4 separate regions of the Homo sapiens genome follow, and regions 2, 3 and 4 are each linked to region 1. Evidence: fine-mapped expression QTL. A gene starts in region 1. Each other region holds a variant in brackets. All regions are shown on one strand. Distances are from middle to middle.

Region 1 (8,084 bases):
CTCAATAGCTTTGATTTATTTCCCCAGAATTTATCATCTTAAAAAAAAAAAATCCCTGAAGTTGTTCTATCAGGTTACTGGGAAAGTTCACTATAGTACTTTAATTTAAAATACTAAAGAAAGTGGAATTAGCACATTGTATTGGCTAAAGCACTTAAGGTCTCTTAAGTAAGCTACATTAAGTGCATACCTTTAAATGCAGAAAAAATATATCCATTTCCTAAATCAATGGAGGTCAATATAATGGGTCAATATGAGGTTATTCATTTTCAAGGGATAAATAGAAACATACATTGCATATCCTAAAATAACGTTAAACCTTCAGTCTGTTTCCCAGTGAAGGACAGGACAGATTTTCTAAGAGATTGGACCACATCCAGTTTGGCCACCCAGCCGGAGTAAGAAATCTGCACTTGTTCAGTGTTCCCAGACCCACGTATTTTCTGTAAATACAGGCAATGTTACCAGAAACAATTTGGATCAACTGCAGAAAAAGAGTCATTCCTGATTTTTGTTGGTTATTAATTCTAGGTACTAGTCTTTTCTATTAGTAACTTTTCTTCCTACTACACGCCCCAAGTAATTAAGTAAAATGCCTAGAAGGCAGGTCTTGAGTTCTTCGTCTTGCAACACTAAGATTTATGAATCTAGTTGAGAAACTTGAGAGAGAAGGGGAGGGCGGCGGGAGGGGGTGTTGGGGGGTGGGAGGGGAAGGTGTGGGTGGGACAGACACAGAGGACTTATCTGTGCAACAGATAATCGGCTCCAAATAATTTTTTCAAAGTGCTCTATTTACCCGAGATTATTTGTTAGATGTTTTGTCGTGTAAGTTAATCAATACTTGTTGAATTGAGCAAGCAACTTCAGAAGGTTATATTCCAGGCGAAATATACACAGACTGACATTTCTTTTTCACTTTTCTTTCACTTAAAAATAGCTTTAAAATATTTGTTGACGCTTGTTACTTTTTACTACGCTCTATAGAAACAACCCGATAGTCTTCCATGGCAGGAGTAACCTCAAAAATGCGTCATGTCTAACTTTCAAAAGCAAAGCACAGTCATTAATGCACGGTTCAAGCAACCCAGAAGTCGATGTCGGATTACCACACCCCCTTCTAACAAATTACAAGACTTGGTTTGGTTACCTGAAAAGACTGTTGATTAACCAGGCTATAAACCAGGATGAAACCTTGGCCGTTTTTGATGTAGAGATCTCTCATGGAGGCAAACTGCTCAGTTCCTGCGGTGTCCAGAATTTCCAGCACGGAGGGGGAAGAGTCCACTTCGATCTCTTTGCGGTAGAAATCTTCAATGGTGGGGTCATATTTCTCAATGAAAGTCCCAGTGACAAACTGCACAGTAAGGGCAGATTTGCCAACCCCTCCACTCCCTAACACCACTACCTTGTATTCCCTCATGAGTCTCACCTTCACCAACTCCTACCAGAGGGGGGGAAAGATCACCCCGCTAGCTGTGGCGCGGCTAGACGAGGCGGAAGGTGGGCGGAAATCTGCGAACTGGGGAGGAGAGTGCAGAGGAGCAGAGGGCCCAACCGGGGAAGAAGAGGAAGTTACAGGAGGGGGAGGGGAAAGAGCGTAGAGTCGGGGAGGGTGGGGAAGGGATGGTAATGCCCTTCCTATAGGAACTGCAGCCCGAGCAGGGGGCGTGGGGAGGAGGGCGAGCCTGGGAAAAGCCCGGCGAGGGTGGCGAGGAGGCGCGTGCCCCCGGGAGGGAAAGGGTGGGGGCTGCGGCGAGGGGACCCTGCGGCGAGGCGGACGTCGGAGGAGCCCGCAGCCCGGGGCTGCCCGGCACTCCTCCCCCGCCCTTCACACAAAGGGGCCCAGGGACCCCGCTTCCTGCTCGCGCAGCCCAGCCGGCTCAGGCCTGAGGGCTCCGTTCCAGTTACCGCTGCCCGGGCGGGTTTCTGGGCCCCGGCTCCCGCGGGGGTCGTCCGGCCTGTGAAGGGGAGAAGGACGCACATTACCCGGCTGACCCCCGCCCCGAACCTGCGGCGCCGGCCGCCGCCTCCCCCAACTCCCACCCGGATCAAGCTACTGCCGCTTACCCCGCCGTCCGCACCCGCCCGGCCGCCGGGGAGGCTCTGTCACGCCAAGGCCATGGCCACCCGCTGGCTCCTCTGTCTCTCCGCTGCCCCAGCGCTGCTGCTCGCCGCGGGGAAAGAAGCGGGGGCCTTCCGCGGCGGCCGCAGGGACTCCAGGCGAACCCACCTCTTTTTTTTCTCACCCACCCCCCACCCCCACCCCCACCCCCACCCCCACCCCCACCAAGCACACACCCGGAAGGGTTTCCCTGACACACTGGCTGAGGTGCCCCAGTTCCCCGAGACTGGACGGGATCACTTCCGGTGGGGAAAGTCCCACCTCTTCGGGGCGAGCCGGGTGGCGCTGGAGCCGCGCCCTGCTGAGCGAGCGAGCCGGCCGGGGACGGTTTCGGGTCGGGACTCCGGCTTCGGGAACGGGCCTCTGGAAACCTGCGACGTCAGTCCTTACCCGCCCGCGGCTGCCGCGGACCGTCCCACCCCCAAACCCGTAGAAGCCCCTCCGACCTGCAACCTCCAGCCGCCCGGCCCTAGGACTTGAGCGGCTCCCTGGCCGGTGCGGAACCTGCGGGCTAATAATCTAGCGACCGGGAGAACGCCAAACATCCCTGGACTAGAAGTTGCAGGGGAAATCAAACAGCCCAGAAAGTTTATTCTCCTTGCTGGTATTTCTTCCACTTGCTATTTTGCTGAGAGATGCATGCAAACTACCCTTAGACTTTCAGATGCAGTGCGTTTTACTTAGCCGTGCCTGACAAACACACAGAACTTTTACCGTCTGGTAGATCCGCCTTGACTTTACCAGCGAATACTAAAGTCACTTAAAAAAAAATCACAAGGCTCGAAAACAGCAGCATTAGAAGTAGACTTTATGGTACTCTGCTCAGCTATGTTCTCATTTGATTCCAACCACTACACGGCAGAAAAGGTAACCAATATTCAAGAAAGATTTGATTGGAAACGGTTTAGGCCTAAAGACTAATTTATTTTAATCGTTGATTATGTATAACAATTTGCTTGGCTGGCTCTTACATGCTGAAGTTTTGTTTTAAAGGCCATCCTATGTAGTCTTTGAAATTCAAAAGCAAGTAGTAACTCTGGTGTTAGATTCTAAGTTTCTATTTTTAGATAAAATTGTTACTTCCGACTATCTTTCCCTTTGCTAGCTTTCTATTTGTAAACTTTGTGTCGGATCCACAGAGCCCCAGGGCCAGGAGTCTAGGCTGTATTTTAGGTGTGTCACTTTCTTTTCAATTCAAGCATGTACCCAGAAACCTGCGAGACTCAGTGGCCAGCCTAGCAAAAATGACTCCAAATTCCCTTACTTACAAGCCCTAAATGGCCAAACTCTATAAAGAGATTTATTACTCAGCCTAAATTGTTGGACATTAGAACACAGGCGAATCATAGTAGTGTGAGGTCCCACTGTCCCTCCCTGAGTATTCCCCAATGTCACTTACAGTCTTCAAAGGAGAGTTTAGTTCAATTTCTCCTTGACCTCAGGCCGGTGCCATCTCTCCAGCGAAGTCCCCAGCTCTGGCTCCAGCTGGCCTGGGCCCTGTGTCGTATCAGAGGCACTGCCCTCTGCTGGAAGGGGTTTGGTCTGTGAGTTATGAGTTTCCCCACAGGTCACTGCTCCTTTCACACGTGCTGTTGCCTGATTTGGAGCTCTGCTGCTCATCTCCCTGCCTAGCTGTCTCCAGACTGTCTGGTGGGATTCACAGCCCTCCACCAGCCGTGCTTGTAACTGAGTCTGGAAATTCCTCTTCTGATCCAGCCAGTGTTGAGCAATCGTGGCAAGTCTTTGCTCTATTACTAAACTGTCAAAGCAAGGAGTTCTTTTTCAGGTCATCCCACCTGTTGGCAATTCTAATATCTCTGAATGTGTTGGTCATGCTTAGGAGAGAGTTCTTTGTTTCTCCACGCAGTGAAACATACTCCTCCCCTCAGTACAGCGTCCTGTGGGGTCACTCTCGTCAACTACAGTGGACAAATATTACACTCAGTCTAAAGATCCTTCTAAACTTTCTTAGGAAGGGTATTCATTACAGCATTGATTAGGAAATCAAACAATTGGAAGAAGCTTAAATGTCCTTCAGTAGGTGATTTTTAAAAGTTTCATAGCTCTCTATATCTATTATCTATCATCTATCTATCTATCTACCAACCTACCTACCTACCTATCTGTATTCACAGAATAGGATATTATGCAGCTACTTTAAAAGAGAAAAGCAGATTTGTAAGTGTTTATATAAAAAGATGGCCAAGATATATTGTAGGGCTGAAAAAGCAAGATACTGAACAAATGTCTAGTTGCTACTGTTTATGTAAAACGCAGGTGTGTAATAGTTACATAGCCATTCAAATCTGAAACAAAGTAATTATGGGTGAGGACTATTATGAAATGGCTTTTATTTCTCCATATTTTAATTTATAAACAATAATTGGGAAAAAGGAAGTAAATATAACTTTATAATATTTTTAAAGGAGGAACAAAAGAAAGTTGTTGATCTTGGTTTTGTAAAAAAAAAAAAAAAAAATCCTGACTGTCTAGGGGTCAGTGGACAGGTCCGCCCAATTTAAACAAATTCCCTACCCTTGCTTGCCCTCCCCAAACATCTCTATACTTAGAAAAGTATTTTCACATACATTATCTCATTAGACTCCTGTTGTTTGCTAGTGTACTCTCATTAAGCAATGAGGGTATAAAGAGCAAGCAGAAGAGTGCGGCCTGGCAGTTGAGAGCTAAGGCTCTGAAATGAGACAGAGGTGCATTAAAATTGCAGCTCCGCCACATTCTAGCTCTGTGTCCCCAAGCAAGTGATTTCACTTGTCTGAGCCTCTAACTCCTCACTTGTAAAAAGGAGATAAGAAGTTAACGTGAAAATGTAATGAGGTATTACAGGTAAAGTGCTTAGCACAGTCCCTTGCACATTATAAAGCCTCAATAAATGCTATTTGGTTTTTATTTAAAAGATTTAATGAATTGTTAATTTTTAAAAAATAGCAAACATGGGGGTAACAAAATTTTAAAAGCTCAAATATCTGCAAGTGGCACGAAAATAATAATTCAGTTACTCTTCACAAAGATATTTATTGTTAAAAGCTTCTTATGTTTTTCAGGGGGGAACATTATTCATATGTCAGTGTATCAATCTACCTTCTATATATATTTTTAAAAATTACTGTACTACAAAAGTAATCAACTGTACACACTATTTTTTACCTTGCTTTTTAAACTTTAATTAATTAATTTTTTTAAGACAGTGTCTCCCTCTGTTACCCAAGCTGGAGGGCAGTAGCATGATCATAGCTCACTGCAGCCTCAACCTCCTGGACTCAAGGGATCCTCCCACCTCAGCCTCCCGAGTAGCTAGGACTACAGGTACATGCCACCACACACAGCTAATTTAATTTAATTTAATTTTTTTGGTAGAGATGGAGTCTTACTATGTTGCCCATGGTGGTCTCCAACTCCTGAGCTCAAGGGATCCTCCCGACTTGGCCTCCCAAAGTGCTGGGATTAAAGGCATGAGCCACCATGTCTGGCCTTCTTAATTTTTATTTCATGGCTGTATCATAAGCTAATTAGCCAGCTCCCCTTTGAAGGACACTGATTGCTTCTAGGTTTTTGCACTAAACGCCTTGGACATATATCATTGTCAGTTAATGTTTAGGGTGAATTTCTAGTAATTCAATAATTGAAACAAAAGGCACTTGCACTTAAAATTCTTCTGGTAAGTATTGCCAAATTGTCCTTCAGAAAGGTCACACCAATTCACATTCCCACCAATGCAGTATGACCGTATCATTTTATAACCTCACAGTAGGTATTACTAATTTTAGCATTTTATAGTGATTGTTACTTGCTTTAGGGTATTTTCAGGACTAACAAATGCAGGGCAGCGTTTTAGAAGGAATTTGGACTTCAGAGCCAGACAGTCCTAACACTGCCCTTTTGCAAGCTACACCTCCATTCCTTCATTTGTAAAGTTGGGCATAATAGCAGTATCTAACTCATAGAATAATAAATGAGAAATCCATTCAAAGCATTTAGCCTTCCAAATATTAATTGCTCAATAAATAGAAACTGCTCAAGTAATAATTTTCTACTCCAAAGGCTTGAATATGGGAAGAGGGGAATGGGAGGACTTCTCTAGAGATCATGCCCTTGAGATTCACAACTTTTGCTTTAATTCTGCATCAACCTCCTTTCCAAAGTATTGCTCAGGCATTATTTTAAAGAACACAACCCATTTTTACCATAGTGTGAAGAAACCACAGTGTATGCACTATATGCAGATAATATAAGTAATAGGGCCATAATCTCATTTTTTGAAATTAGTTTGGCACAAGTTTAAAGTGCTGGATGTTTGCTACAGGCACCAGTTGCTTACTTATCCCTTTCTTCTTTTCGAGTTGTTACCTCCTTCAGTTGCAATCCTTGGAGCCACCAACTGCCTGGGATATTTTACCCTAACTTCCACTCTCCAAATGAGCCGTCTTGCCTTCTAGGTCCTGGGAAAAAACCCATGGCTATCCATCTACTTTCTATACATGGCTATCTATTTTCCATCCAGGCTCTTCCCTTCTCTTTTGCTAGAAGTTGCTCTTGAATTACCAGAAAGCTTGAGCCAGTAATGTCCTCAGTCTTTGCCTACAGAAATCTTATTTCAATGCTTTAGGGACCCCATTGATATCAGCTAAATTGTCCTGGATTCTTTCTAGCTCCTACCCTCTAAGATTCCAATCTTCTCTTTCAAATCCTGCCTCCAGCTACACCAATCATTAGTTAATCATTAGTTCTGCATGTCAGGCTCCCCCAGTACACAAAACCAATTTTATACCTTTATTATTATCTTTTTTCTCATGAAAATAATGTTATTTGCAAAAAATTATAAAAGTATAATCCCACTACCTGGAGAAAATTGCTATTAACATTTTAGTGTCTTTCACAATTTTTTTTCTGGAGAGAGTTAAAGAACATTTTTTTTTTGTAAACTAATAATGGGTTCATATAAATTTGTGAATGGCTTCTTTCACTTACTGAAACATCATGTCTGCATAAAGCACTAAAAAATACTCATGTATCCCTCATCCCCTACATGAGTAAGCCTTTTTTCCTATAGCTTTAGCTTTCCTACAGCATCAATGAGAATTTAATCACATTCAATTTTGCTCACCTGGAATCCTTCATCCAATCAATGAGATTTCACTAGAGGTGCTGCTGACCACAGAGGACACTACCCCAACCTGGCCAGGCAGACACTCCTACAAAGTCACAAATTTGTGCGACTGCTGACAAAGTTAGTTTCTCAGAACTGAGAGGCGTACTAAATAGGGATGTGTTTAAAATAGATCTGAATTCCTTAACAATTTTTCCCTCTCCACTTCATCCTTGATTTGAAAGATAGTAGTTAGAAAATTATTTTGTAATCTATCAAGTACCAAATAAATTTAAAGAATTAGTACTAATAATAACTATACTCCCATACTCCTAATATATGTACATCAGAATCACCTGGAGGTGATGTGAACCACAGACGGCCAGGTCTCAACCCCAGAGTTTTTTATTCAGTAGGTCTGGGTCAGGATCTATAATTTGCATATCTAAGTTCCCAGATGACACTGTTGCTGCTGGCCCAGGGACCACATTTTAAGCACCACTGTTCTGTAAAGCGGTAGGACATTATTTGGGGCTTTCTTGCTTGATACTCATTAATGTATCCACTCATTCATTTATCACACAGTTATTGAATTCCTACTCTGTGCCAAGCACTTTACTAGCATTTTTGAGGAATATAGACAATACAATCAACATTACAGTATAGCGTGGCACATCCTGTGATACAGATATCGGCCAGGGTGTTATGGGAGACTTAGGAAGGGTATCAGGGAAGATTTCCTAGAGAAGGTGATTGGGCAGTAGGCAAGGAGGCCAGAAGAATCGGTAGGGGCTAGAACCATAGGGGAAAGCCTTGAGTAGTAAGCTAAGGGGTTTGACTTTTCCCCTGGAGGCTGTA
Region 2 (8,084 bases), 280 kb after region 1:
ACTTGCTTATTTTCACCTTCCAAAGTACCTAGCATTTCTTCTGTGTATTGAGTTCAAACACTGAGTGGTCTTAAAGTTTTGAGTACTTGCTAAATGGCTGGAGCATAGTCATGGGCACTGCAGAAGCAAGGGTAGATCTGAGCAGAGAGGCAGCATATAGTATTCAAGAAAGAAATGTATATGGCAGGGCATAGAGTTCTGGAATCATTTGGTCTTATGTACTCACATTTTCCACATCTGCCCATGCATTTTAACAGTTTTTTGTTTCATACCTAACCAATGGCTGAAAGAAATAGACATTCTGGTTTTTAACTCATTCTATATAAAGTTTTAGTATGGTTTTTGTATTTTTTAAACAATTCTCTCAGCTACCATCTTTTTTTTATTTTATTATTATTATACTTTAAGTTTTAGGGTACATGTGCACAATGTGCAGGTTAGTTACATATGTATACATGTGCCATGCTGGTGCGCTGCACCCATTAACTCGTCATTTAGCATTAGGTATATCTCCTAAAGCTATCCCTCCCCCCTCCCCCCACCCCACAACAGTCACCAGAGTGTGATGTTCCCCTTCCTGTGTCCATGTGTTCTCATTGTTCAATTCCCACCTATGAGTGAGAACATGCGGTGTTTGGTTTTTTGTTCTTGCAATAGTTTACTGAGAATGATGATTTCCAATTTCATCCATGTCCCTACAAAGGACATGAACTCATCATTTTTTATGGCTGCATAGTATTCCATGGTGTATATGTGCCACATTTTCTTAATCCAGTCTATCATTGTTGGACATTTGGGTTGATTCCGAGTCTTTGCTATTGTGAATAGTGCCACAATAAACATACGTGTGCATGTGTCTTTATAGCAGCATGAGTTATAGTCCTTTGGGTATATACCCAGTAATGGGATGGCTGGGTCAAATGGTATTTCTAGTTCTAGATCCCTGAGGAATCGCCACACTGACTTCCACAATGGTTGAACTAGTTTACAGTCCCACCAACAGTGTAAAAGTGTTCCTATTTCTCCACATCCTCTCCGGCACCTGTTGTTTCCTGGCTTTTTAATGATCACCATTCTAACTGGTGTGAGATGGTATCTCATTGTGGTTTTGATTTGCATTTCTCTGATGGCCAGTGATGGTGTCAGCTACCATCGTTTTAAAGCATTTGCTGAAGCACAGTTAATAAAAGAAAGAGAAACAAAGACAGAGACTGAGAAACAGAGAAATAACATGGCACCACCAACGTTCCCATAAAAACATAATTTTCTATGTTATCCCTTCCCAGGCATATGGCACTGAGTCATAATAAATAACAGTAATGGAAAATGGCCAAATATACATTGGTATACTGGAGCTAAGTACAAAAGGAGATATAGAGTTATTTTTAAGATACACTCTATTTCTAAAATGCTTTCAAGCCTTAAATACACTGAACAGTCATATCTTTAAAGGGAAAGAATTGTACATAAGTTCTAAAAACACTTGCTGAGATAGTAAATGAATGTGCTCAATTTCCCTGATCAGAGCCTTTCATTCCAATTTGATGTAAGCCATAAATGAAATGACTTGGCTGATTATAAGTCAGTTCCCCATGAACATTTGTTTACATCTGAAAGCCACTACACATAATTGCTGTCTCTGCTCAGGGGAGGTCCAGCTGGGATTACAAGAACTGTTGCAAGGTTCTACTGAGGTGTCATCACCAGTTACGGCATGAACCTGGCACTGCATGTCCACACTCTGTCTGCTTTGGCAATTGGATCCATCAGTCTTCCTCCTTCACACAGCTAAAATTAGCTAGAAGACAGCAGAAGTCTTGGGAAGGAAAACATGGGGCTGTAAATAACATTCAGACCCCAAGTCTGCTTTGCTCCTGAGAGATAGCGTGTAATTATACCTTAGTTACTATGTTCTTCCAAAAGCCAGTAATAGTACATTTTCATTGATGAAGAGAAGGGTGAGGTTGAGGATAAGGCAGGATAACGGGCATACCGTAAACATTGATTTCTCTGAAAAAATGGAAATTGACAATTTGCCTTAATCATTTTCTTTTGAAGAAAAAAAAAATGGGTCTACTCAATTTGTATAATAATGGGAAGTAAATGTGTAAACCGCTTCTTCCCTTTATTAACAAATTCAAATTTAAAATAAACCAGTTTAACATCTGTATGTACATTGGGGAAAATAATGGTATCTACCTCAAAAGGTAGTTATGAAGATGAATGAATTTAGAACTTTTATAAGTTTTAGAACAGTGTAACACTATATGTTTTCCAAATAAATGAATAAAGCCTAAGAAGAAAAAAGTCTATTAACATTATTATAATCTTTCATTTTGTGTAGCTAACATTCCCATTTAAATGACAGCATGTAAAAATTTTGTAGTACAATATTCCTTTGCATATTTTACACATAGCACACATTTACTTTCTGATTGTAATGGGACCCAAAAGAAGTTAAATCCTAGCTTGAGAGTCAGTATCATTGCCTCTAGCATTACCAATTTATTGCATATTCTTAGATAACTCATCCATCATCTTACTCCCTCTGATATACATATCTTAACTCAAAAAGGGTTATAGGCCTCTATCACAAATATACTTAAAATGATCAAGGAAAGAGGTGAGATCATAATTCCTTACCCTTGTCTTTACTGTTAACAAATAATAATAAAGACAGATTGCCAGATTTGGTCTGTTGTTACTGTTTCTCTTCATGTTCAAATCTTATCAAATAAAACCCTCTGATTACGACTTAATAAAGAAGTCCCTTGAAGGTGGTCATGTAAGTAACTGCAGTAACATTTCCAGAAGGTGGACTCATTAGAAAATGAGATTCAGATTAATGGGGGAGAAGGGGAGATTCTTCTTTCTTTATGCAATAAAACTGCTCACTGGCGAGGCTGCCCCAGCAGTGTGGACTTCCCTTCACTCCTGAATGAGGATAACACATGTGCTAACTGATCTAACCTCTTAGTTACGGATGATTAGAAATACAGCCTTTTACCAACCCCAAGACGTCACTCTTGTAGACAAAGCATCAGTCCTGGTAACAACCCACTAGGAAAAAGTCTCATGAGGACCCAAAGTCCAGGCTGTTTTGGGTGGTTCTGGCTGAGCAGAATAAGCCAGAGGAGGAGGGAAAGGAAGGGAACACTAAATCTTTCTAATCATTCTCTCTAACCTCCCTTGTCCCATAGGAGAATGTAATTTTGTTTCTGTGGAATTCTTTAAGTAAATGGTTCAGGCTTCCTTTGCCATTTATGGGGGCAAGACTGGCCTGTTATTGCTGTACTGAGGTGTGATACTAAGGCCTTTATAGCAATGGCAAGGTGGTATGCAATTCTGCCTCCCACACAGACTTTAGGCAGCTC[A/G]CTTTCCCTCTGCAGGCCTCATTGTCTTCATCAGTAATGATACCTGGTCTGTGAATTATTATGATTTTTTTTTGAGACAGGGTCTCACTTTGTTGCCCAGGTTGGAATGCAGTGGCATGATCTCGGCTCACTGCAACCTCTGCCTCTGGGTTCAAGTGATTCTCCTACGTCAGCCTTCTGAGTAGCTGGGACTACAGGTGTGCGCCACCACACCCGGCTGATTTTTGTATTTTTAGTAGAGATGGGGGTTTCACCATGTTGGCCAGGCTGGTCTCGAACTCCTAACCTCAGGTGATCCACCTGCCCCAGCCTCCCAAAGTGCTGGGATTACAGGCGTGAGTCACCGCACCCAGCCCTATTATGATTTTTTTTTAACTTACTTTGGCAAAAGTGATCATCCTCCCCTTTGTGCTCCCGCTATGTGTTGAACACAATTCAGCCTCTCCACTTTCCAGTCTGTCTGCTAATGCACTATTCCAATAGGCCTTGAACTCTTTCAGAGCATGGACTATATCTTACTTATATTTGTATTACTATCACCTCGAATGCAGTGAGCACTCAAACATGTTTGATGAATAAATGAAGGAAGGAAGGCATAAATGAATACACGAGTGAAATGAGTTGGACTAGATATCTTCTGAGACTTCTAAACTACAGGCTGGAGCAGTACTTTTCCATCCCAATTCAAATCACAGTTTGTATAGGTTCAGGCACAGATAACAGAATGATTCAGAAGAACTGGAGAAATTATAGACGAGTGGTTTAAATGTCTTGTATTTTGTACACTCCCTCCCCCAATTTTTACTCATCTTTGTCTTCTTCATCCTATGATGAGACCTATTTTCCTCTTTTCTAAGGCAAAAAAAAAAAAAAAAAAATTGACATTTGCATTTCTCCACCAGCCTGTGTCACTGTTTATTATAAAAATAATTCTTTTCAGCTCATTAAAAACAGCTCATATATGATACGGTATTTCCTTGGTAAATACAACCCTTTTTATACAAACCTGCATCCTTTCCCTCAGATGCACTCAAATTGATTGTATGCCATGACCAGCCAGTCTTAGCCACAGAGTCCCCTCTTTCCACAATCATTGATGGCTGCAATTAGCATATGTGAAGTACTGCTAGGCAACTTCAGCATCTTTCCCCATGTGTCTGAAGACTTAGGCAGGCAGCTTTGGAGTGCAGGCCTTCTTGTCAGTGTAGGATTCCCCAGATTGCACATGCAGTTGCAACTTCTGCCAGTTGCTTGAAGGTTCTGATTGCCTGAGTGACAGTTAAATGGGAGTGTGACTATAATACTGCTTAGACCCTTACATTTTACATAGGTCAGAGAAAAAAGCAACTTTAAAAAATGGAGTGTACTTAAGTAGTACATTTTTCAAAATTGTCATTGTTTTTTCTTTCTGCTATTCTGTGAAATATAAAAGGGCCAACATTCACATATGAATAATGCAGGTGCTTCACTAAATAGGAAAGGGGAGGGAGAGTGAGAGAGAGAAAGAGAGAGAGAGATAAGGGGCACATAAGAAGGGAAATATGGAAATATGGAAGCACTGTTGTTTTCTCTCAATAGTGCTTCTATGAAACAATGTTTCTAATGGACCTAGGAAGGCAGACCAAGGAGGAGAGTATAAAGAAAGGCAGTGTAATTAAAACCGATGGTTCATAACAATGTGTAATGAATGATAAGGCTTAGATCAAAGTCCAAAAGGAACAGTCCAGCCTTGGCTGTAAAAATCAAAAGTCAAAATATGCATTAAGTGTCGCCCTCTGTAGCCAGCACCATTCCTCTGCCGGTGCTCCCTGTCTCTAAAGGAAGCATATGCCACAGCAGCAAACTCTATTCACAAGTGAACATTCTTAAAGAATTACTTGTGTGCTCCTCTACTGCATAATGGTCCAAGGACAGAACCCCCTGGCTGTGCCATTGCACAATGCAATGGAAAAATTCAAAGCTGGCAGCCCTGTGTTTGTAGCTTCCAAGAATCCTAACCAAGGTCAATTACCAGATACTTGCTCTTTCCAGACAAAGCATTACAATGAGAAGCATCAGGGTCTTTTCACAGGAGTATAAAAATTTGGCTAAACATTGGGAAGGCAATGAAAGTTTTCCTACTCTTCTTTCCACTTGTGCTATGCAGTGTGCTGTGTGGAAGTGGGCTGCATGCTCTGCCACCAAGAGTTGGCTGCATTTCAGTGGCAAAGAAGAAAGGCACCACAGAACTGTGATTATTTCTTAACACTCCTGAGGATGATTTCTCCTGAATCCTATTATGTATTTTTCAGCATGCTTCAGTTATGGGATCCTTGTCTTAAGTCCCTTTAACATTGTGACCTCCCAGAATTAAAAGGATGTTGAATGCCACTGATTACATTTGTTTCTCAATCCTAACCTGAGTCACAGTTCCTTTCAGAGCAGTAAAACCCACATGCATCCAAGCTCTTTACATTTGAAAGATTTGGAATAAGTTATCTAGATTTTAGGATTCCTCAATCCAATCAACAGAGGCAATTCTCTTCACTAAGATGGTTCCTACATCAGCAGGACACCCAAATCATTCTTCACTTTGATTCTAGGGTGATGCCTACTGAGGGCCTGAAGGGAACAAGTGTGATTTAAGCGAGGCCTAGGGTTTTTTAAAATAAGTGACTCCTGCTAAGTGCTTCAAGGCTTTGTTTTACAGAAGGTGAGGTCAGTGAAAGTGAAGTTATACTTAAATCATTAGGGAACAAGCTGATCTACTGTGTAATGACCACTGCCTGCCTAAAATGCAATGAGACTACTTTGAAGGAAACTCTCAACACTTGAAACATCCAAGTGACCTTTGTCTTTCAAAAGTAGACTTTTCACTGCCAGTACTTCACATTTTGGAACTCCTCTTGGGGAAATGTCTTTAGAGCCAGTATCTGAGTCGTAAAAGAAAAGCACAGTCATTTCTTCAGATCCACACCTAGTCAGTGAACACAAACAGCATTGTTCAGTTTGATCCAATGTCGCCCCCCTACTGCATTAGACTTCGCTTCCAGGGAAGGTGTCCTTTCCAAAAATTAAACCCACTCTCAGGAGACTGAACTTTTGCACCACTGAGAGTCATAAGAATGGGCTCAGAAGATAGTTTCCAAAGAGGAGGGTCGTTAACCAAACTGAAGTAAGTGTATAGCCCTAAAAGGGACAGCACTAATTTATATTTAAATTATGAAATGTTATTTAAATATTGTGTGTATGGGGGGAGAAAATTTAGTTTAAAGTGGATTAAAAAATCTAGGCTTCCCCATTTCTAACAATGGGGATTACAAACTCTGACTTCGAAAGGCTGTTGTGATAAACAGTCGAGATATGTGGATATCTTTTGTAGACCCCGAGGTGCACATTCAAGAATAAGGTGTATGTGTATGTACGTAAACAAATATAGGAATTTGTACACATCTACACACTACATAAAACTAGTGCTTTAAATTCCCATCTTTTAATCTATAAGGAAAACATGAAGAAGATTTGAAGAGGATGGAGATAAAAGGAATGAACAGTTGAGCTTAGATTACAAGAGTAGAAAGGTGAACACAGATTTAAAAGCAGAATGTAGTGGCTTGAATTTTACTAATGTTTCACTTTTCCCTATCTTAATACCAAATGATCCTACTAGAAAAGGTTAAACCCTCAAAGATTGGACCACATTTAAACCCAACAAAGGAAGAACCATTTTTCTAATTACTCTAAATTAACTTAATATTTGTTATTCTTTTTATACCGGTATTTCAACACAAAACACACTTATCAAAGGAAAGCTAAGTGAATTAATTGGGAAGCTTAATTTGAGTTCACTTGAACAAAATTTTACTGGATGGATTTCTTTTTAGAAATGTAATACTTGATGCCACTCAAGACCCTCAAAATAAAAAGCTAAATACAGAATTTCTCACAGACCCTGAGTAAGTGATTAGTCTTAACACTTTTCCATTCAAAATTACATACTTAGAGAGTCACAAGGTTTTTTCTCATTTAAAGTCAACTCCCAGTTATTGATAATAGATAAAAACCTCAATTAATTGGAACTCAACCAACTAGAAGTCTCATCTTACTGGAATGTTGTTGTCATTACCCTTCAGAGAGAAGAAAATAACAATAAAGTGGCGGGGCACGGTAGCTCACGCCTGTAATCGCAGCACTTTGGGAGGCAAGGTGGGCGGATCATTTGAGGTCAGGAGTTTGAGACCAGCCTGGCCAAAACCCCGTCTCTACTAAAAACAAACAAACAAACAAAACCAAAAACAAAATGCGTGAAAGTCAGCCAATTTGGTGTGTCTTAGTTTCCCAATAAGCCCAGTTTTCTGCAATTTTCCTGTGATAGCTATATAAAGAAATAGGGAAAAGAATAAAGATTTATGAGGCACTTTCCACATGTCCATCTCTTTTTGATCGGGCCCCAGCTAATGTTTTACACCCTATTCCTTCATATGTCTTCCATTCCAGCCATTCTAGATATCTGTCATTTTGTTTAATCCTGACAACAATCATGTAAAAGTTGTAATATATTTTAATTCTATAGATGACAAAATGGAAGATTAGTGATGTTAAATTGTCCAAGGACATGAAGTTAAGTCACTTGTCCAAGGTCACATGGTGGTAATGGGACTGGTATTTGGATCCAGACCAGTTTGACACCAAAGCCTGTATTTGAATGATGGCCCTTAAACACTGCAAAAA
Region 3 (8,084 bases), 290 kb after region 1:
AAAGCAACTCTGAATAAAAAAACAAAGTTGGATGCACCATACTATCTTGTTTTAAAATATACATTGAAGCTATATTTTGATAGCACAACAGGGTGACTGCAGTCAATAATAACTTAATTTTACATTTCAAAATAACTAAACAGTGTAATTGGATTGTTTGTAAAACAAGGGATAAATGCTTGAGGGGATGGATACCCCATTCTCCATGATGTGATTATGTCACATTGCATGACTGTATCAAAACATTTCATGTATCCCATAAATACATACATCTACTATGTACCCACAAAATTAAAAGTAAAAAAAAATTAAAAAAAAAAACCTACTATTAGTCTCAAAGTTAGTATGATTCAGAGAGAGGGAGAATGCTAAGGATTTTTTACATTTTAATTGTTTTACTCAAAACAATTAAAACATAAGAGTTTTATATACGTGAGGGGTACATACGATGCTTATAGTTCCGAGATACCAGATGTTCCCTGACAGTGCCAACAGATGAAGTATCAAAAAAGCAGAGAAAACTCAAGAAACTGAGTTTTATTGAGGGAAGAAGGAAATAGAAACTATCACCAAATTAGGGCCACTGGTTGACTCTTCCCTGGCACCCTCACATGTACAAGACCTGTCCCAGACACAGAGCAAGTCTCTGCTCTCTATTAAATGAGAGCAGTAATCCACATTCATTCACAAAACCCTAATTAAGCAGTTATTTGTAAAGGAGTTTTCCATGACTTCTAGACTCGAAAAGATATGTGTGGAATCCCAGCAATTTATGTAGAAGCCAACACAGCCCCTGGCACATAAATAATAGATACTTAATGAATAAAGCATCCACGTTATTGTTGATATTAATAAAAAGAATCTTCATTGAGTGCCTAAAAAGAAAAAGCCATAATAACAAAAACAGCATGATACATAAAAACAAGACACACATACCAATGGAACATGATAGAGAACCCAGAAATAAATCCACTCATTTACAGCCAACTCATTTTTGACAAGGGCACCAAGAACATACATTGGGGAAAGGACTGTCTTCAATAAATGGTGCTGGAAAAACTGGATATCCATACATAGAAGAATGAAACTAGATTCCTATCTCTTACCATATATAAAAATCAAATCAAAGTGGATTAAAGACCAATGTAAGACCTGAAACTATGAAACTAAAAGAAAACATTGGAAAATTTTTCAGGACATTGGTGTAGGCAAAGATTTTGGGTGTAAGACTTTAAAAGCAGAGGCAACAGAAACAGAAATGGACAAATGGGAACACATCAAGCTAAAACACTTTTGCACAGCCATGGAAACAACAAATTGAAGAGACAACCCACAGAATGGGAAAAAATATTTTCAGGCTACCTAACAAGGGATTAATAACCACAATATATAAGGAACTCAAGCAATTCAACAGCAAAAAGAAAAAATAATCCAATTTTAAAATGGGCAAATGATGTGAACAGACATTTCTCAAAAGAAGAAATAGAAAAGGTCAACAGGTATATGAAAAATGCTCAACACCACTAATCATCAGTGAAATGCTAATCAATACCACAATGAGATAGCATTTCACTTCAGTTAAAATGGCCATTATCAAAAAGACAAAAAATAGCAGATGCTGGCGAGGATGTTGAGAAAGAGAAACTCTCATACACTGTTGGTGGAAATGTAAATTAGCATGGTCATTATGAAAAATAGTATGGAGGTTCCTAAGAAAAACTAAAGGTAGAGCTACCGTATAATTCAGCAATTGCACTGCTGGGTATATATCCAAAAGAAAGGCAATCAGTATATTGAATATATCTGCACTCCCATGTTTATCACAGCACTATACACAATAACCAAGATATGAAATCAACCTAAGTGTCCATCAATGGATAAATGGATTTTTAAAATGTGGTATATATACAAAATGAAATAATATTCAGCCATAAAAATAATAAAATCCTTCATTTGCAAGACACGGATGAGCCTGGAGGGTATGTAACTGAAATAAGCCAGATGCAGACAGACAAATATCACATGTTCTCCCTCATATGTGGAAGCTAAAAACGTTGATCTCATAGACATGGAGAACAGAATGGTATTCACCAGAAGTTAGAGTTGGGAGAAAGATGAAGAGAGGTTCATTGATGGGTACAAAATGCAATTAGATAGAAAGAATAAGTTCTAGTTTTCAGTAGCATAGTAGAAAGACTATAGTTATCAATAATTTATTGTATATTTTAAAGTACCTGGAAAAGAATACTTGGAATGGACTCACACACACAAAAAAAATGTTTGAGGTGATTAATGTCTCAATTGCCCTGATTTGATTATTACAAATTGCATGCATCTATCAAAATATCACATGTACCCCATAAATATGTATAATTATTGTGTAGCAGTAAAATGCAAGTCATCTGAAAAAAAAAAGAATTAACACCAATACTTCACAAACTTCCAAAACCTCAAAGGGGAGAATGTACTTATCAGTTCATTCTATGAAGCCAGTATTACCCGAATAACAAAGTCGGACAAAGGCATCACAAGAAACAAACTATAGAGTAATATCTCTTCTCAATATAGATGTAAATGTCCTCAATGAAATACTAGCAAACAGAATACAGCAGCACGTAAAAATGTTATATTCTATGACTAAGTAAGACTTATTCCAGTAATGCAAGGTTGCTTCAACATGCAAGAATCAATTAATGTAAGATACCATATTAATAGAATAAAGGGAAAAATTACATGATCCTCTCAATATATTCAGAAAAAGCATTTGATGAAATTCAATGTTCTTTCATGTAAACATACTCAATAAACTAGGAATAGAAAGGAATCTGCTCATGCTGATAAAGGGCAGCTATGAGAAACTCACAGTTAGTATCATATTGAATGGTGAAATACTTAAAGCTTTCCCCCTAATATCAGGCACAAGATAAGGATGCTTCTCACTGCTTCTATTCAACATTGTACTGGAGGTGCCAGCAAGAGCAATTAGGTAAGAAAATGATGTAAAATGCATCCAGACTGGAAAGGAAGAAGTAAAACCATATTTGCAGATGGTATGATCTTATATAAGAAAATACTGTGGAATTCAGAAGAAAACTATTAGAACTTGTAAATGAGCTCACCACGTTTGTAAGATACAAGATTAATATGCAAAAGTTAATTGTAATATGTAATGAATCAATATTTTATATTGTCTTGACAAATTTCTCATAAAATGTATCACATTGTGTGTTTCTAGTCTCTTTATGTTACTCCTGGAGGGTAGACACCATGAGTTTTTCTATATATGTATCCAGTCTCAGTACATGGCACTTATTTGTCATTCAATTAATACATTTATGAACAATATAACTTGGTAATATGTCATAGATGTTATCCAAGGCCAAAGATACTCATGAAGTAGGGCTTACCTTGAAGTCTGTAATAGAACATATATAGTGTGAGGAAAGATAGCTCCCTTGGTATCACTTAAATACATAGTATTGTATTGGAAAAATAACCACTTGTATTTATATATATTGTCAATGTACAATCTGAAAGTGATATTAAGAAAGCAATTCAATTGAAAATAGATTCAAAAGAAATTACACTAATAATACATTTAACAAAAGCAAAATGTATACCTTGAAAATTAAAGAAAAAAAATCATTGAAAGGAATGGAAGAAAACCTAAATAAAAAAATGGAAAGACCCTGCCATTTTCACAGACAGAACGACTTAATATTGTTAAATGGCAACACTCCCCAAATAGATCTATAGATTCAATGTGATGTTTAACAAAATCCCAGCTTCCTTTTATTGCAGAAATTGACAAGTTTATCCTAAAAGTCCTATGGAAATACAAGAGTGACAGAAAAGACAGATCAATCCTGAAACATAAGATTAAAGTTGAAGGTCTCACACCTTCCTATTTCAGAAATTAGTACATGGATAGCTACAGTAATCAAGGCTATCTTGTACTGGCATAAAAATAGATCAATGGAATAGAATTGAGTATTCAGAAGTAAACTTATACATTAATGGTAAATTGTCTTTTGATGAGGATGCTAACTCAATTCAATGGGAGAATTAATAATCTTTTTAAGTAACCTTTATGAGACAGCTAGAAATCCACACATAAATGAAGTTGAGCCCTTACCTCTCACCATATACAAGAATTAACTAAAAACACA[A/G]AATGGATCGAAGGTCTGTATTTAATGGCTAAAGTTACAAAACTCTTAGAAGAAAACATAAGTGTAAATCTTGGTGAAATTTGGTTGAGCGATGGTTTCTTAGATATGACACCTAAAGCACGAGCACCCAAGGAAAAAATAGCAAAATTTTACCTTATCAAAATTAGAAGCTTTTGCGCTTCTTAAGACACTGTCATGAAAGTAAAAAGACAACCTACAGAATGGAAGAAAATGTTTGCAAATCATATATCTAATAATATGCAAATCACATATGCATATATGAGAGATATCATATATGCATAGATGAGAGATATCATATATGCATATATGAGAGATATCATATATCTATGTGATGCAATTCATATATCTAATCATAATCATATAGCAAATCATATATCTAATAATATGCAAATATCTAATAATATGGAAATCATACAGCTAATAAGGGTCTAATATCTAGACTATATAAAGAATTAAAACCTCTTAACAACAAAAAGGCAAATAATTCAGTTAAAAATTGGCTACAGACATTTGGAGACATTTCTCCGAAGAACATATACAAATAGTCATGAAAAGTTGTTCAGCATCATTGGCCATAAGGAAAATGTAAGCCACAATTAAAATATCACTTCATACTCATTAGGATGGGTACAATAAAAAAGACAGACAATAGCAAGTGTTCATTAGAATGTGGAGAAACTGAAACCCTCATATACAGCTAGTGGGAATAAAATGGTGCAGCTACTTTGGAATACAATCTAGTAGTTCCTGAAAAAGTTAAACACAGAGTTACCACATGACTTAATTCCACTCCTAGGTATATAGCATATACTCAAGAGAAAGGAAAACTTCTACCCACACAATATTCACAGCAGCATTATTCATAAAAATATCCCAAAGTGGAAATAACCCAAACACTCTTTAACTGGTGATGGAGAAAAAAAATGTGGACTATCCATACAATGGAATATTATTCAGCCATAAAATGAATGAAGTACTGATACATGTTACATGGATTAAACTTATGAAATTATAAGTGAAAGAATCAGACACAAAAGACCACATTTTGTATAAGTCTAATAATATGAAATGTGAATGATAAGCAAATCCTAGGAAACAGAAAAATTAGTGGTTGCCAGGGGTAGGAGGAGGGAAAATGGTTTGTGACTGCTAGTGAATATGGGGTTTCTTTTTGGGGTGATGAAAATGTTCTAGAATTACATAACAGTAATGATTGTGGAATCTTAAGATAGTAAAAACCACTGAACTGTACACTTCAAAATGGTGAATTTTATTGTATGTGAATTATATATCAATACATACAAGGAAGTAAAAATAGTGAGTTAACAAGGAAATCTTGTTTTTTCCCCCTCATTCTTGGCTTTCATCTTGGGACTGGTTCCTTGTGGGAGCTCTAGGGAAGAAATCTGTTTCCTGCCTTTTCCAGCTTCTAGAGACCACCTAAATTCCTTGCCTCCTGGTCCCCTTATTCATCTTCAAAATCAGTGGAGTAGCTTCAAATCTCTCTCTCCCCTTCTGTATTCACACTGCCTTCCCTCTTTAAAAGGACCCCTGTGGTTGCACCTACCTGGATAATTCAGGATAATTTCCCCATCTCAAGATCCTCAACTGAATCATATCTTCAAAGTCTTTTTTTTTTTTTTTTTTTTTTGGCCATGGAAGGCAACATACTCATAGGTTCTCAGGATTAGGACATGGAGATATTTGAGGAGGGGGGTGTTTATTCTGTCTACTACAGACCGTCTTCTTTATAAGATTAAAATAATAATAATTAAAATGACAGTTTAAAATGACTTAAAATGAGAGTTTAAAAAGCAATAGGAGATTATGTGAGCATTATATAATTGTTTTATTCTGTTCAGCAGGTAGGCAAGCACTGAGAAAAGTCATCAAGTATCAGAAGTTACACCTAAGAAATTGATATGGTTTGGCCGCACACGAATCTCATCTTGAATTGTAACTCCCACAATTCCCACATGTCATGGGAGGAACCTGGTAGGAGGTGATTGAATTATGGGGTTGGGTCTTATCTGCACTGTTCTGGTGATAGTGAATGAGTCTCACAAGATCTGATTGTTTTAAAAACTGGAATTTCCCTGCACAAGCTCTCTTCTCTTGTCTTCTGCCACGTGAGATGTGCCTTTCACCTTCTGCCATGATTGTGAGGCCTTCCCAGCCACATGGAACTGTAACTCCATTAAACTTCTTTCTTTTGTTAATTGCCCAGTCTCAGGTATATCTGTCAGCAGCATGAAAATGGACAAATGCAGAAACCAATTTATTTACCAAGAAAGGACCATGCAGAATTGGCTGAATATTATTATTTTGCTCTTCACAGTAGAATATTCAAATAACCACTTAAAGGTGAAAAAAAATCAAATCAGCAAAAAGAACAATCTGTTCATATATTTTAAAGGGAAAAGTGCTGCTCCTCTTGGGCCAAAAAGGAAATAATTGGAAAGCTATGGCTGAATTTCCACCTAAGGTCACATTGTCTTGATGCAAATATAACAATAATTGGTAATAGTAGTAGTAGTAGTAGTACTAGTAGCAGTAGTGGTAGTAGTAGTAGTAGTAGCAGCAGCAACAGCAGCAGTAGTAGTAACTAGCATTTATTGAGTTATTATGTGGTAGGTATGTATGCTGGTAAAAAAATTTCCATTAGGTAATTCATTTATTCCTCAATATTTTGAGTAATAATGAAGTAAGGCCCCTTCCAATGAAGTAAGGCCCCTTTTTCATAGAAGAGGAAAATAAGTCTTCAATAAATCAAGTGACTTTTCCAAAGTCACATAGCTAATATGTAGTGGGGCTGGATTTAGAACCTAGGAACCCAACCCTAGATTGTGTGCTGGAAATACAATTGTGATCCATCATTGACATGGCCCTGGGTAGGAAGTGTACCAGTACCTGAGATTGTACATATAGGGAACTTCAGTGGTCTAGGAAATCAAGTAATATTTCACTGAGTTAAAATCTGAATAGTGAACAAATGTCAAATAAGCAAATGTGGTATGAGGCAGGGACATGTTTGTGGAGAGCATTCCAAAAAGAGGGATTAGCCCAAGCAAAGGAAAAAACCCTGAGGCTAGAGCACATTCCCAGAACAAAAAGATGGTTACTGTGGCTGGAATATAGTGAGCGTAGTGAGGTACGATATACACTAAAATCAGAGAGGTGAGCAGAGTTCAGCTCTTGAAAGGTTGTATAGCCCATGGTAAGATATTGGGGTTGATTCTAATTTAGTGGTTATGAATCAGTAGTAATTTTTCTTCCCCCCTCCCCAAAGGGACATTTGGCAATGCCTAGAAACGTTTCTGATAGTCACAACTCGGGGTGGGCTGCTACTGTAGTGGGTAAAGGCCAGAGATGCTGCTAAGCATCTTATAGGGCACAGGATAGCCCCTCCTACCCACAACAAAGAAATACCAGTATTGCTGAGGTGAGAAACCCTGTTCTAACTGTAATAGGAAACTTTTGAAGGATTTTAAGTAGGTGAGTGGTCCAATCTTAAATATATTTTCAGATTTATGTCTTATATATTTTATGTCTTATGTCAATGCATAGAATTGATGGTGGAGAGAGACGGCTGGATATAGGCAGATTAAGAGACTTTTGTAGAAGTCCAGGCCAAAGATGATTATGGAATTGCCTAGGATCATGGCAGTAGTAGCAGAGAAAAGTGAAAGGTTCAAGTTGTACTTTAAAGGTAGAGACTAGAGGATTTACTGAAGGATTGGATGGGGTGGTGCTGAAGGAAAGAGAGGAATCAAAGATGATATCCACGTTTCTGGCTTTACTTGATGGGTGGATGGGTGGAGGTACAAATGAGGGAGAAAAAAAGATTGAGAGGGTCAAAGTGTGAAAGGAGAGATAATGTCAATTGTGATCATA
Region 4 (8,084 bases), 85 kb before region 1:
CTGGCTTTGCCTTTGCAAGCTGCAGGATTGAGAAAAACAGTTTCCTTCTTCACTTGTGCATTGGGAGGAATGAGTTGATTGCCAAACACCTGAGCTTCTTCACAGGCTGCTCTCCTTAGTAGGTTATCACAGTGTTTTCCATAGAGCCACTGGCCTCCCCAGGTCAGCAGGAAGAGCCCAGCTGTAGTTTTCTTCCAATGATTTTGAAGTGTTTTAAAGAACACCGTCATCTTCTAGAGATTTGCATGGCTGGTCCCACTCAATAACCACTTTTATTAGCGTTTTGTTGTAGTTGTTCAGCCTTCAGTGTTTCCTTATGCAAATTTTATACAAGCAAATACAAATATATATATATATCCTATGTAGGTAGCATACTAGTATTACACTGTTTTGTGCATTCTTTTTCCTCATTTATCATGGAGATCTGCCCTTACCTGTGCATGGAGAACTTCCTCATTTCTTTTCACAGCTGCATAATTTTGCACTGTGTAGACAAACCAAAGTTCACTCAGCCAGTCTGAAATTAATATTTCAGCCTCAACAAGACTGAAATGAATATCTTCATACATATGTCAATTTATATGTGTGCAGATATATCTGTAGGATAGATTTCCAGAAGTAGAGTTGCTGGTCAAGGATAATGAATTGGTAGTCATGATAGCTATATTTCCTTCCATAAGGGTTAGTATGGGTTGAATTGTGACCCATAAAATTCATACATTGAAGTCCTGAGCCCTAGTAACTCAGAATGTGACTGCATTAGGAGAGAGGGTCTCTAAAGAAGTAATTAAGTTGAAATGAGGTCATTAGGGTGGGTCGTAATCCAGTTTGACTGGTGTCCTTATTAAAAGAGAGTAGGACACAGACATGTAGAGAGGGAAGACAACATGAAGACACATAGAGGAGAAGATGTACATCTATGAGCCATGGAGAGAGGTGTCAGAAGAAACCAGTCCTGCCAACACCTTGATCTCAGACTTCTAGCCTGCAGAATGGTGAGAAAATAACTTTCTGTTGTTTAAGCCACCCGGTCTGTGATATTTCATATGGCAGCCCTACCAAACTAATAAAGGTTGTGCTACATTGCAGTCCCATTAGTAATATATGAGAGTGACTGTTTTCTATACAGGCTTGACAGTGGAGTATCGAACTTTTGAATGTTTACCAAACTGATAGGTGAGAAAAAAAATCTTGGTGTACTTTTCATATTATGAGAGAAGTCAAGCATCTTTTCATATGTTTAAGGGCCATTACTTTTTTTTTTTTTTGAGATGGAGTCTCGCTCTGTCTCCCAGGCTGGAGTGCAGTGGTGCGATCTTGGTTCCCTGCAGCCTCCACCTCCCGGGTTCAAGTGACTCTCCTGCCTCAGCCTCCCAAGTAGCTGGGAATACAGCCATGTGCCACCGCACTCCACTAGTTTTTTTTTTTTTTTTTTTTTTTTGTATTTTTAGCAGAGATGGGGGTTCCACCATTTTGGCCAGGCTGGTCTGGAACTCCTGACCTCACGTGATCTGCCCGCCTCAGCCTCTCAAAGTTCTGGGATTACAGGTGTGAGCCACCGTGCCTGGCCCCAGTGCCATTACATTTATATTAATTTCTTTTTTGTGTGGATTTCTTTTATTGTGAAAGATGTGTTCATTTACTTCGACATTCCATTTTATTTTTCTTATTTAAAAGATTTTGTATAGCCCAGCATGAGCGACGCAGAAGACGGATGATTTCTGCATTTCCATCTGAGGTACCGGGTTCATCTCACTAGGGAGTGCCAGACAGTGGGCGCAGGTCAGTGGGTGTGTGCACCGTGTGCGAGCCGAAGCAGGGCGAGGCATTGCCTCACTCGGGAAGCACAAGGGATCAGGGAGTTCCCTTTCCTAGTCAAAGAAAGTGGTGACAGACGGCACCTGGAAAATCAGGTCACTCCCACCCGAATACTGCGCTTTTCTGACTGGCTTAAAAAACTGCACACCAGGAGATTATATCCTGCACCTGGCTCAGAGGGTCCTACGCCCACGGAGTCTCGCTGATTGCTAGCACAGCAGTCTGAGATCAAACTGCAAGGCGGCAGCGAGGCTGGGGGAGGGGCGCCCGCCATTGCCCAGGCTTGATTAGGTAAACAAAGCAGCCGGGAAGCTCCAACTGGGTGGAGCCCACCACAGCTCAAGGAGGCCTGCCTGCCTCTGTAGGCTCCACCTCTGGGGGCAGGGCACAGACAAACAAAAAGACAGCAGTAACCTCTGCAGACTTAAATGTCCCTGTATGACAGCTTTGAAGAGAGCAGTGGTTCTCCCAGCACACAGCTGCAGATCTGAGATCGGGCAGACTGCCTCCTCAAGTGGGTCCTTGACCCCCGAGCAGCCTAACTGGGAGGCACCCCCCACCAGGGGCACACTGACACCTCACACAGCAGGGTACTCCAACAGACCTGCAGCTGAGGGTCCTGTCTGTTAGAAGGAAAACTAACAAACAGAAAGGACATCCACACCAAAAACCCATCTGTACATCACCATCATCAAAGACCAAAAGTAGATAAAACCACAAAGATGGAGAAAAAACAGAGCAGAAAAACTGGAAACTCTAAAAAGCAGAGCGCCTCTCCTCCTCCAAAGGAACACAGTTCCTCACTAGCAACGGAACAAAGCTGGATGGAGAATGACTTTGACGAGCTGAGAGAAGAAGGCTTCAGATGATCACATTACTCCAAGCTACAGGAGGACATTCAAACCAAAGGCAAAGAAGTTGAAAACTTTGAAAAAAATTTAGAAGAATGTATAACTAGAATAACCAATACAGAGAAGTGCTTAAAGGAGCTGATGGAGCTGAAAACCAAGGCTCGAGAACTACGTGAAGAATGCAGAAGCCTCAGGAGCCGATGCAATGAACTGGAAGAAAGGGTATCAGCGATGAAAGATGAAATGAATGAAATGAAGCGAGAAGGGAAGTTTAGAGAAAAAAGAATAAAAAGAAACGAGCAAAGCCTCCAAGAAATATGGGACTATGTGAAAAGACCAAATCTACGCCTGATTGGTGTAGCTGAAAGCGACGGGGAGAATGGAAAACACTCTGCAGGATATTATCCAGGAGAACTTCCCCAATTTAGCAAGGCAGGACAACATTCAGATTCAGGAAATACAGAGAACACCACAAAGATACTCCTTGAGAAGAGCAACACCAAGACACATAATTGTCAGATTCACCAAAGTTGAAATGAAGGAAAAAAGGTTAAAGGCAGCCAGAGAGAAAGGTCGGGTTACCCTCAAAGGGAAGCCCATCAGACTAACAGCAGATCTGTCGGCAGAAACTCTGCAAGCCAGAAGAGAGTGGGGGCCAATATTCAACATACTTAAAGAAAAGAGTTTTCAACCCAGAATTTCATATCCAGCCAAACTAAGCTTCATAAGTGAAGGAGAAATAAAACACTTTACAGACAAGCAAATGCTGAGAGATTTTGTCACCACCAGGCCTGCCCTAAAAAAGCTCCTGGTACTGGAACAACCAGTACCAGCCGCTGCAAAATCATGCCAAAATGTAAAGACCATCTAGACTAGGAAGAAACTGCATCAACTAACGAGCAAAATCACCAGCTAACATCATAATGACAGGATCAAATTCACACATAACAATATTAACTTTAAATGTAAATGGACTAAATGCTCCAATTAAAAGACACAGACTGGCAAATTGGATAAAGAGTCAAGACCCATCAGTGTGCTGTATTCAGGAAACCCATCTCACGTGCAGAGACACACATAGGCTCAGAATAAAAGGATGGAGGAAGATCTACCAAGCAAATGGAAAACAACAAAAGGCAGGGGTTGCAATCCTAGTCTCTGATAAAACAGACTTTAAACCAACAAAGATCAAAAGAGACAAAGAAGGCCATTACATAATGGTAAAGGGATCAATTCAACAAGAA[G/T]AGCTAACTATCCTAAATATATATGCACCCAATACAGGAGCACCCAGATTCATAAAACAAGTCCTGAGTGACCTACAAAGAGACTTAGACTCCCACACATTAATAATGGGAGACTTTAACACCCCACTGTCAACATTAGACAGATCAATGAGACAGAATGTCAACAAGGATACCCAGGAATTGAACTCAGCTCTGCACCAAGCGGACCTAATAGACATCTACAGAACTCTCCACCCTAAATCAACAGAATATACATTTTTTTCAGCACCACACCACACCTATTCCAAAATTGACCAGATACTTGGAAGTAAAGCTCTCCTCAGCAAATGTAAAAGAACAGAAATTATAACAAACTATCTCTCAGACCACAGTGCAATCAAACTAGAACTCAGGATTAAGAATCTCACTCAAAGCCGCTCAACTACATGGAAACTGAACAACCTGCTCCTGAATGACTACTGGGTACATAATGAAATGAAGGCAGAAATAAAGACGTTCTTTGAAACCAACGAGAACAAAGACACAACATACCAGAATCTCTGGGATGCATTCAAAGCAGTGTGTAGAGGGAAATTTATAGCACTAAATGCCCACAAGAGAAAGCAGGAAAGATCCAAAATTGACACCCTAACATCACAATTAAAAGAACTAGAAAAGCAAGAGCAAACACATTCAAAAGCTAGCAGAAGGCAAGAAATAACTAAAATCAGAGCAGAACTGAAGGAAATAGAGACACAAAAAACCCTTCAAAAAAATCAATGAATCCAGGAGCTGGTTTTTTGAAAGGATCAACAAAATTGATAGACCGCTAGCAAGACTAATAAAGAAAAAAAGAGAGAAGAATCAAATAGACACAATAAGAAATGATAAAGGGGATATCACCACCGATCCCACAGAAATACAAACTACCATCAGAGAATACTACAAACACCTCTACGCAAATAAACTAGAAAATCTAGAAGAAATGGATAAATTCCTCGACACATACACTCTCCCAAGACTAAACCAGGAAGAAGTTGAATCTCTTAATAGACCAATAACAGGAGCTGAAATTGTTGCAATAATCAATAGTTTACCAACAAAAAGAGTCCAGGACCAGATGGATTCACAGCCGAATTCTACCAGAGGTACAAGGAGGAACTGGTACCATTCCTTCTGAAACTATTCCAATCAAAAGAAAAAGAGGGAATCCTCCCTAACTCATTTTATGAGGCCAGCCTCATTCTGATACCAAAGCCGGGCAGAGACACAACAAAAAAAGAGAATTTTAGACCAATATCCTTGATGAACATTGATGCAAAAATCCTCAATAAAATACTGGCAAAACGAATCCAGCAGCACATCAAAAAGCTTATCCACCATGATCAAGTGGGCCTCATCCCTGGGATGCAAGGCTGGTTCAATATACGCAAATCAATAAATGTAATCCAGCATATAAACAGATCCAAAGACAAAAACCACATGATTATCTCAATAGATGCAGAAAAAGCCTTTGACAAAATTCAACAACCCTTCATGCTAAAAACTCTCAATAAATTAGGTATTGATGGGACGTATTTCAAAATAATAAGAGCTATCTATGACAAACCCACAGCCAATATCATACTGAATGGGCAAAAACTGGAAGCATTCCCTTTGAAAACTGGCACAAGACAGGGATGCCCTCTCTCACCACTCCTATTCAACATAATGTTGGAAGTTCTGGCCAGGGCAATTAGGCAGGAGAAGGAAATAAAGGGTATTCAATTAGGAAAAGAGGAAGTCAAATTGTCCCTGTTTGCAGACGACATGATTGTATATCTAGAAAACCCCATTGTCTCAGCCCAAAATCTCCTTAAGCTGATAAGCAACTTCAGCAAAGTCTCAGGATACAAAATCAATGTACAAAAATCACAAGCATTCTTATACACCAACAACAGACAAACAGAGAGCCAAATCATGAGTGAACTCCCATTCACAATTGCTTCAAAGAGAATAAAATACCTAGGAATCCAACTTACAAGGGATGTGAAGGACCTCTTCAAGGAGAACTACAAACCACTGCTCAAGGAAATAAAAGAGGATACAAACAAACGGAAGAACATTCCATGCTCATGGGTAGGAAGAATCAATATCGTGAAAATGGCCATACTGCCCAAGGTAATTTACAGATTCAATGCCATCCCCATCAAGCTACCAATGACTTTCTTCACAGAATTGGAAAAAACTACTTTAAAGTTCATATGGAACCAAAAAAGAGCCTGCATCGCCAAGTCAATCCTAAGCCAAAAGAACAAAGCTGGAGGCATCACACTACCTGACTTCAAACTATACTACAAGGCTACAGTAACCAAAACAGCATGGTACTGGTACCAAAACAGAGATATAGATCAATGGAACAGAACAGAGCCCTCAGAAATAATGCCACATACCTACAACTGTCTGATCTTTGACAAACCTGAGAAAAACAAGAAATGGGGAAAGGATTCCCTATTTAATAAATGGTGCTGGGAAAACTGGCTAGCCATATGTAGAAAGCTGAAACTGGATCCCTTCCTTACACCTTATACAAAAATCAATTCAAGATGGATTAAAGATTTAAATGTTAGACCTAAAACCATAAAAACCCTAGAAGAAAACCTAGGCATTACCATTCAGGACATAGGCATGGGCAAGGACTTCATGTCCAAAACACCAAAAGCAATGGCAACAAAAGCCAAAATTGACAAATGGGATCTAATTAAACTAAAGAGCTTCTGCACAGCAAAAGAAACTACCATCAGAGTGAACAGGCAACCTACAAAATGGGAGAAAATTTTCGCAACCTACTCATCTGACAAAGGGCTAATATCCAGAATCTACAATGAACTCAAACAAATTTACAAGAAAAAAACAAACAACCCCATCAAAAAGTGGGCAAAGGACATGAACAGACACTTCTCAAAAGAAGACATTTATGCAGCCAAAAAACACATGAAAAAATGCTCATCATCACTGGCCATCAGAGAAATGCAAATCAAAACCACTATGAGATACCATTTCACACCAGTTAGAATGGCAATCATTAAAAAGTCAGGAAACAACAGGTGCTGGAGAGGATGTGGAGAAACAGGAACACTTTTACACTGTTGGTGGGACTGTTAACTAGTTCAACCATTGTGGAAGTCAGTATGGCAATTCCTCAGGGATCTAGAACTAGAAATACCATTTGACCCAGCCATCTCATTACTGGGTATATACCCAAAGGACTATAAATCATGCTGCTATAAAGACACATGCACACGTATGTTTATTGCAGCATTATTCACAATAGCAAAGACTTGGAACCAACCCAAATGTCCAACAATGATAGACTGGATTAAGAAAATGTGGCACATAGACACCATGGAATACTATGCAGCCATAAAAAATGATGAGTTCATGTCCTTTGTAGGGACATGGATGAAATTGGAAATCATCATTCTCAGTAAACTCTCACAAGAAGAAAAAACCAAACACCGCATATTCTCACTCATAGGTGGGAATTGAACAATGAGAACACATGGACATAGGAAGGGGAACGTCACACTCTGGGGACAGTTGTGGGGTGGGGGGAGAGGGGAGGGATAGCATTGGGAGATATACCTAATGCTAGATGACGAGTTGGTGAGTGCAGCACACCAGCATGGCACATGTATACATAGGTAACTAACCTGCACAATGTGCACATGTACCCTAAAACTTAAACTATAATAATAATAAATAAATAAATAAATAAATAAATAAAATCAATTGTCCATAAAAAAAGATTTTGTATAAAGTTTAAAGAGTACAAGTGCAATTTTGTTATCTGGATATATATTGAGTACTGGTGAAGTCTATGCTTTTATTATGTCCATCACCCAAATAATGTACCCATTAAGAAATTAATTGTACTGGTTAAGTAATCTGTCACCATCTACCCCCTTCCCATCCTCTCACCTTTCTGAGTCTCCAGTATCTACCATTCCACCCTTTATGTCTGCATGTATACATTATTTAGCTTATAAGTGAGAACATGTGGTATTTGACTTTCTGTTTCTGGGTTGTTTCACTTAAGATAATGGTTTCCAGTTCCATCCATGTTGCTGTAAGAGACACATTTCATTCTATTTTGTGGCCGAATAGTACTCCACTGTGTACACATACCACATTTTCTTTATCCAGTCATCTG

Alleles and levels. Alleles are on the strand shown, and positions count from the first base shown. SD is a standard deviation of normalised expression in the study named. Not every link is listed here.
In carriers of allele A in region 3, the expression in aorta of the gene that starts at base 3,599 in region 1 tends to be higher than with G alone (small effect, 0.21 SD a copy in GTEx).

Evidence for each region. PIP is the estimated chance that this variant, and not a neighbour inherited with it, causes the effect. A credible set is the group of variants that fine-mapping cannot tell apart.
Region 2: its variant is the best candidate, but not a certain one, in a credible set for the expression of RAP2C in whole blood (TOPMed, PIP 0.80).
Region 3: its variant is the best candidate, but not a certain one, in a credible set for the expression of RAP2C in aorta (GTEx, PIP 0.57).
Region 4: its variant is the best candidate, but not a certain one, in a credible set for the expression of RAP2C in blood mononuclear cells (TOPMed, PIP 0.71).

What each region holds. Positions count from the first base shown.
Region 1 is chrX:132,215,849-132,223,932 of GRCh38, forward strand. RAP2C (RAP2C, member of RAS oncogene family) reads right to left here and starts at 3,599. Exons shown (of 6, transcript NM_001271186.2): 1 at 3,522-3,599; 2 at 2,384-2,493; 3 at 2,068-2,164; 4 at 1,148-1,958. The coding sequence starts at 1,420. RAP2C-AS1 (RAP2C antisense RNA 1) reads left to right here and starts at 2,659. Exons shown (of 3, transcript NR_110410.1): 1 at 2,659-2,989. RefSeq lists silencers at 1,589-2,028, 2,039-2,088 and enhancers at 3,521-3,590, 3,921-3,970, 7,905-8,084.
Region 2 is chrX:132,500,119-132,508,202 of GRCh38, forward strand. No RefSeq gene overlaps it. Among named protein-coding and RNA genes, the nearest start is that of MBNL3, 15 kb to the left of the region's middle. The variant A/G (reference allele first, on the strand shown) is at 3,375.
Region 3 is chrX:132,510,193-132,518,276 of GRCh38, forward strand. No RefSeq gene overlaps it. Among named protein-coding and RNA genes, the nearest start is that of MBNL3, 25 kb to the left of the region's middle. The variant A/G (reference allele first, on the strand shown) is at 4,170.
Region 4 is chrX:132,131,123-132,139,206 of GRCh38, forward strand. It overlaps the pseudogene AGKP2. Among named protein-coding and RNA genes, the nearest start is that of FRMD7, 7.1 kb to the left of the region's middle. The variant G/T (reference allele first, on the strand shown) is at 3,914.